2 linked regions of the Homo sapiens genome follow. The protein of the gene in region 1 purifies or fractionates together with the protein of each later gene. This does not show direct contact. Each region holds a gene or a part of one and is shown in the gene's direction. Other genes may lie near its edges.

Region 1 (3,920 bases):
CGGGATCTCGGCTCACTGCAAGCTCCGCCTCCCGGGTTCACGCCATTCTCCTGCCTCAGCCTCCCAAGTAGCTGGGACTACAGGCGCCCGCCACTACGCCCGGCTAATTTTTTTTGTATTTTTAGTAGAGACGGGGTTTCACCGTTTTAGCCGGGATGGTCTCGATCTCCTGACCTCGTGATCCGCCCGCCTCAGCCTCCCAAAGTGCTGGGATTACAGGCGTGAGCCACCGCGCCCGGCCACTTTTTTTTAATTAAAAAAAAAAAAGAGGCCAAGTGCAGTGGCTCACACCTGTAATCCCAGCATTTTGGGAGGCCAAGGTGGGAGAATCACTTGAGGCCAGGAGTTCAAGACCAGCCTGGGCAATATAGAAAGACCCCGTCTCTACAAAAAGTAAAAAAATCAGCCTGGCATGATGGCACACGCCTATGGTCCTAGCTACTTGGTAGGCTGAGGCAGGAGGATTGCTTGAGCCCAAGAGGTCAAGGCTGCAGTGAGCCATGATTGTGCCACTGCACTCCATCCTGGGTGACAGAGCAAAACCTCGTCTAAAAAAAAAGAAGAATGTGTTCCTGCATTTTCACATTCATTAAGGAAAAAACAAGCCACAGATTACTAAGGTCAGGATTACAAAGAAACAGTATATGGTAGTATATACTGTCCTAAGATTCTATGTTACATATTTTTAAATTACAGGCATACCTCATTTTATTGTACTTTGCTTTATTGTGCTTTGCAGACATTAAATTTTTTGCAAATTGAAGGTTTATGGCAACTCTATTGAACAAGTCTACTGGTGCCATTTTTCCAACAGCAAGTGCTCATTTTGTGTCTGTGTCACATTTTGGCAATTCTTAAAATATTCCAAACTTTTTCATTATTATTATTATATCTGTTATGATGATCTGCAATCAGTGGTCTTTGATGCTACTATTGTAATTGTTTGTGGGCACCATGAACTGCCCATATAAGACTTAATAACAATATTTGGCTAGGCGCGGTAGCTCACGCCTGTAATGCCAACACTTTGGAAGGCCGAGATGGGAGGATCACTTGAAGTCAGGAGTTTCAAACCAGCCTGGCCAACATGGTGAAACCACATCTCTACTAAAAATACAAAAAATTAGCCGGGCATGGTAGGGCATCCCTATAACCCCAGATATTTGGGAGGCTAAGGCACGAGACTCACTTACACCTAGGAGGCAGAGGTTGCAGTGAACTGAGATTGTGCCACTGCACTCCAGCCTGGGTGACGGAGCGATACTCCATCTCAGAAAAAAAAGACTTAATAACGATATTGAAATTAGACTAATAACCTTACAATGGGAATTTTGCAATGAATAAAAAAGAGGAAGAAAATAGTTATAATTAGATTGTTTTCTGAAGTGACATTAAATGGCCTTCAAGGCTCACCAAAATGTTTCCTGAATTCTAAGAGCTTAAACAATGTGTTGGCCAGGTGCAGTGGCCCATGCGTGTAATCCCAGGCCTTTGGGAGGCCAAGGTAGGCGGATCACTTGAGGTCAGGAGTTTGAGACCAGACTGGCCTACATAGTGAAACCCCATCTCTACTAAAAATATAAAAATTAGCCCGGCATAGTGGCGGGCACCTGTAATCCCACCTATGGGGGAAGCTGAGGAGTAGAATTGCTTGAACCCAGGAGGCAGAGGGTGCAGTGAACCCAGAGGGCGCCACTGCACTACAGCCTGGGCGACAGAGCAAGACTCTGTCTCAAAAAAAAAAAAAAAAAGAAAGAAAGAAAGAAAGAAAGAAAGAAAGAAAGGAAAGAAAGAAAGAAAGAGAAACTAGAATCCCTCTTCCCTAAAATGGGTCATAGAAACTAGAGCCTCTTTTCCCCAAAACCAGCCATAAAGTCTAAAAATGTTACTCTAACCTTTCCCACCACCACCTTTCTGTGTAATAGCTGGCCATAAAGAAATTAAGACCCTCATTCCAGAGAGGTCCTACCCCATACCCATGAGAAGAAATCCTTCACAGAGAGGCCAAGAAAAATCTGAACAGACAGTCCTTGCTGAGTTTTCCCACTCAGTCTGTTTGCATTAGCTCATGCCCTTTATTCTGATCACAGTTCTACATAGCTGTCCATACTTCGTTGAACCTAAGCACAAAAATGGACAGTTTTTCCTGTATCTTTGGGTTTTCATTCTGAAACCTCCCATGTCGGGTAAAATTATGATCAAACACATTTTAAAAGGCAGAGACCCCTTTCTTCAAATAAATCTTATATTGGAAGAAGATGATGCCATTTAAGACTTTGCTAGCTAGACAGGAGAAGTCAATACCTGGCTTTAAAGCTCAAAGTACAGGCTGATTCTCTTGTTAGGGACTAATGAGGGTGGTAACTTTAAGTTGAAGCCAGTGTTCATTTACCATTCCAAAAATCCTATGGCACTTAAGAATTATGCTAAATTGACTCTGCCTGTGATCTATAAATGGAATAACAAAGCCTGGCTCACAGCACATCTGTTTACTGAATATCTTAAGCCCACTGCTGAGATGTACTAAGAAAAAAAAGAGATTTCTTTCAAAATATTACTGCTCATTGACAATGCACTTGGTCACCCAAGAGCTCTGATGGAGAACACAAGATGAATGTTATTTTCATGCCTGCTAACACAACATCCATTCTGCAGCCCATGGAACAAGGAGTAATTTCAACTTTTAACTCTTATTAATTAAGAAATAGATTTTGTAAGGCTGTAGCAGCCAAAGACAGTAACTCCTTTCATGGATCTGGCCAAAGTAAACTGAAAGCTTTTTGGAAAGGATTCACCATTCTAGATGCCATTAAGAACATTCATGATTCATGCATGGGAGGAGGTCAAAATATCAACATTAACAGGAGTTTGGAAGAAGTGGGTTACAACCCTCATGGATGACATTGAGGGGTTCAAGACTTCAGTGAAGGAAGTAACTGCAGAGGTAGTGGAAACAGCAAGAGAATTAGAATTGGAGGTGAATCCTAAATATGTGACTCAATTGCTACAATCTCGTGATAAAATTTGAATAGATGAGGAGCTACTTCTTATGAATACGCAAAGAAAGTAGTTTCTTGAGAATGGAATCTATTCCTGGTAAAATGCTGTGAACATTGTTCAAATAACAGCAAAGGATTTAGAATATTCTATAAACTTATTAATAAAGCAGCAGCAGAGTTTGATGGGGTTGACTCCAATTTTGAAAGAAGTTCTACTGTGGGTAAAATGCAATCAAATAGCATCACGTTTTACACAGAAATCTTTCGTGAAAGGAAGAGTCAATTGACGTGGCAAACTTCACTGTTGTCTTATTTTAAGAAATTGCCATAGCCACCCCAACCTTCAGCAACCACCACCCTGATCAGTCAGCAGCCATCAATGACAAGGCAAGACACTCTTCCAGCAAGCAGGTTATAACTTGATAAAGGCTCAGATGATCGTTATCATTTTTTTAGCAATAAAGTATTTTTAAATTAAGGTATGTACTTTTTTTAGACATAATGCTATTACACACTTAACAGACTACAGTATAGTATAAACATAACTTTTATATGCACAGGGAAACAAAAAATTCATGTCACTTGCTTTATTGCTATATTTACTTTATTGTGGTGGTCTAGAACTGACTCTGCAATATCTCTAAGGTATGCCTGTATATGTAATTGGTTACCATAACTTTTAACAAACCATATCCATGAAACAGTTTCTAAGAACTGCATGTTTCTAAGAATGCTGTGAAACAAGATTATATGTCAAACAATTAAACTACCTTATGTATTACAGCACTTCTCAAACCCATTAATATAATTGTTGTTACAAATCTCCAAGAGGGGCGTACAGTATATAGTGTTTTTCTAAATATATTTGGCCATGGCACACGTGTGTATATTTTGCACACATGTGCATCTGTGTGTGTAATA
Region 2 (3,920 bases), on another chromosome or scaffold:
CTCTGTGAAGTCTGCAGACTCTTTACTGGTTGCACCCCCAGACTGGTTTGTTGCTCTTCTCATTCTTCCTTCTTAGTTTTTATTTTTGTTGCAGGAGCATAATATTAGATTAGGCCCCCATTAACGGGCACGTATGAAGTTAAGCAATGTTATAGTTTCCTATGCATGTTTATGTACCCACTGGTCCACCCCTCTGCTCTCATAGGATGATTTTACAATGTGTAAAATGTTTGATTTTAATACAGTATGCAAAGTATATTTACGATATTTTATTTAAAAGCTTTATTGGTCCAAGATCATATTACTTGGGCTTGAGATGTGTGAACGTATGAGCTACTGAATTTTTTTTTTTGAGACAGAGTTTTCCTCTTGTCGCCGAGGCTGGAGTGCAATGGCGTGATCTCGGCTCACTGCAGCCTCCACCTCCTGGGTTCAGGTGATGATTCTCCTGCCTCAGCCTCCTGAGTAGCTGGGATTACAGGTGCCCGCCACCACGCCCAGCTGATTTTTGTATTTTTAGTAGAGATGGGGTTTCACCATGTTGGCCAGGCTGGTCTCGAACTCCTGACCTCAGGTGATCCACCTGCCTCAGCCTCCCAAAGTGCTGGGATCACAGGCAGGAGCCACTGTGCCTGGCTGAGCTTTTGATCTTTAACCAGTGTGATACAACATTTGTTTCTGTGCTTTTCAAGAAATCCTGTCTCATGGTAACCTGGGTGTTGATCTCGTGCTTTAGTTAGTAGCTTCTCCAAGGAGAAGGCGTGTTGAGGTTTAGTTGGAAAAATGGGCTTCTTTGATGGGTCTCACAGTTTTGGTGAGCCGGGATAGCTTGATAGGGTTTTGTTTTTTTTTTTTTTGAGTCAGAGCCTTGCTCTGTCACCCAGGCTGGAGTGCAGTGGCACAATCTGGGCTCACTGCAACCTCTGCCTCCTGGGTTCAAGCGATTCTCTTGCCTCAGCATCCTGAGTAGCTGGGATTACAGGCATGCACCACCATGCCTGGTTAATTTTTTTTATTTTTAGTAGAGACAGGGTTTCTCCATGTTGGCCAGGCTGGGTCTCGAACTCCTGACCTCCAGTGATCTGCCTGTCTTGGTGTTCCAAAGTGCTAGGATTACAGGCATGAGCCACCACGCCCAACCAGCTTGATAGTTTTTGTTTATTCAACAAATATTGAGCACCTGCTGTATGCTAGGCATTGTGCAAGGTGTTAGGGCTGATGCTTGAGCACAGTACCTCCACATCTGCAGTATGGGGAGAGAGAGATGATACCGTGATGAGATCTGTATTAGAGCTGTGACAAGGTGCTGTGGGAACACAGGATTTGTTACATATTCTTAATTTCTTTGGCCACTTAAACAGTTTACTTTTGTGGCACTTTAGAGTGGCTGTGCCCCTGGACGTTGTATACTGAAGTTACATTTACAAATGTAAACTCTCTGATCTAGGTGAAGTAGCTTCAAATAGAAGTGAGCAATATATTTGAATACTAAATTGATCTCTAAATGACCTCTGATGTGTCTTTTTAACTTGAAGATTGAGCATAAGGCTAATGTCCAGATCTGTCTGTTTAAATGGTCCCCCCACCCCCGCCTCCCGTAAGTCAGTAAGTTTGTATTCAAATTTTACATAGTTAAGCTCACTGATCTTTGGATTAGGGTTGTTGTTCTGTTTTTAGGTTCGTGATGGCTGTATTCAAGTATACTTTTGATGGAGTAGGGCATAAGTGATAAGAATGAGTGACATTCAACATGTTGCTGTCTAGACCCAACTTAAAGTCATGTAACTAAGGTATCAGAAAACTTTAATACAGTAACCTATCTGTTTAATAGGAAATTCTACCTTTAACATAGAAAGAAGTTCTCTGTACAGAAAAAGAAATTTACCTATTTCCAGTTTTTTTGTTTGTTTTTGAGAGGGTCTCACTCTCTAGCCTAGGCTGGAGTGCAGTGGCACGATCTCGGCTCACCTCAACCTCCATCTCCCAGTCTCAAGCAATTCTCCTGCCTCAGCCTATAGATAGCTGGGATTACAGGCGTGCGCCACTACCACCCTGTTAATTTTTGTATTTTTAGTAGAGATGGGGTTTTACCATGTTGGACAGGTTGGTCTTGAACTCCTGACCTCAAATGATCCACCTGCCTCTGCCTCCCAGAGTGTTGGGATTACAGGCATGAGCCACTGCACCCAGCTTTATTTCCAGTTGTTTTTATTCCATTAGTTGTTTTTTTTTTGAGACAGAGTTTTGCTCTGTCAACCAGGCTGGAGTGCAGTAGCACAATCTCGGCGCACTGCAATCTCTGCCTCCCGGGTTCAAGCTATTCTCCTGCCTCAGCCTCCTGAGTAGCTGGGACTATAGGCACCTGCTACCATGCCCAGCTAATTTTTGTATTTTTAGTAGATGGGGTTTCACCATATTGGCCAGGCTGATCTCGAACTCCCGACCTTGTGATGTGCCTGCCTCGGCCTCCCAAAGTGCTGGGATTATAGGTGTGAGCCACTGTGCCCAGCTTAAGTAGTCGTATGTTACTTTGATATTTCCAGTCACGGTAAGTATATTGATTACAATGAATTTGTTATTTGAGGACTAGCAGGAGAGTATTTTTTTTTTCCATAACAAAGAAACTTGAAGAAAAAAATTAATTCTGTAGTTTGCAGAGCCGGGAAAAGAAAATCTCCATTTCGTATGACTTCTTTTTTTTTTGAGACAGAGATTCACTCTTGTTGCCCAGGCTGGAGTGCAGTGGCGCGATCTCAGCTCACTGCAACCTCCGCTTCCTGGGTTCAAGCAATTCTCGTGCCTCAGCCTCCCGAGTAGCTGGGATTACAGGCACGTGCCACCATACCCGGCTAATTTTTTGTATTTTTAGTAGAGATGGAGTTTCACCGTGTTGGCCAGGCTGGTCTCGAAATCCTGACCTCAGGTGATCCACCCGCCTCAGCCTCCCGAAGTGCTGGGATTATAGGTGTGAGCCATCGCGCCCAGCCTTTGTATTACTTCTTTTACCAGTAAGACATCGTACCTCTCAGACTATTGATTTGAAATGGGGGTGTGGAGGGGATGATGATACTGGGAGAAAAGGGTGCTTTTGGAAAAACTCCTCTCCCTGGCTTTGAATTCTCATTTTGGATCATTATTTCCCAATAAGAATATCACTGTGTTAGGGCCAGGCACGGTGGCTCACGCCTGTAATCCCAGCACTTTGGGAGGCTAAAGCAGGCAGATCACGAGGTCAGGAGATCGAGACCATCCTGGCTAACACGGTGAAACCCCATCTCTATTAAAAAATACAAAAAATTAGCTGAGCTTGGTGGTGGGTGCCTGTAATCCCAGCTACCTGGGAGGCTGAGGCAGGAGAATGGCTGAGCCCGGGAGGCGGGGCTTGCAGTGAGCCTGGGCGACAGAGCAAGGCTCCGTCTCAAAAAACAAAACAAAACAAAAAAAGAATATCACTGTGTTGATGACAGCTTTGTTTTTCAAAGATCAAAAAAGATTTCAGCCCCTGCAGCTCCAAATAAGAGAGCAGAGTGACTTCCCTGTGATGGTGCCATCTAGTGGGACTGGTTCAGCCTCTTGGGCTGTCTCTTGAATTTCTCCTAACTATTCATAACATTTTTCAGTACTTTTTGATGTCCATAGAAGGAAGAAAGTCAGTGCCACTGTGGATTCTTTCCTAGTGGACAAGAGTGTTACAAGTAGCTACAGCCTTTGAACTTTCTGGTTGTTGTAAATCTTCTGTTGTATAACTTTCGAGTTTTTTCCACCTGCAAATTAGATATACACTCCATTACTTAGACTAAAACAAAATGGCCAAATCTCCACATCTATTACTTATATTTAAGTTGCTCATTACCTATATTTAGGTTTTTAATTTTTTATTTCTAATTTTCTTGCATAGTGCAAATTTTTAATTTTCTTGC

The links.
Region 2: the proteins of SPATA1 (region 1) and TLK2 purify together in Homo sapiens (affinity purification with mass spectrometry; 2 studies listed by BioGRID and IntAct, with this or other methods). This does not show direct contact.

The regions. Positions count from the first base shown.
Region 1 is NC_000001.11:84,558,350-84,562,269, forward strand, and holds part of SPATA1 (spermatogenesis-associated protein 1), read left to right. Parts: intron 1-3,920.
Region 2 is NC_000017.11:62,481,611-62,485,530, forward strand, and holds part of TLK2 (serine/threonine-protein kinase tousled-like 2), read left to right. Parts: intron 1-3,920. UniProt on the Homo sapiens protein: Serine/threonine-protein kinase involved in the process of chromatin assembly and probably also DNA replication, transcription, repair, and chromosome segregation. Phosphorylates the chromatin assembly factors ASF1A and ASF1B.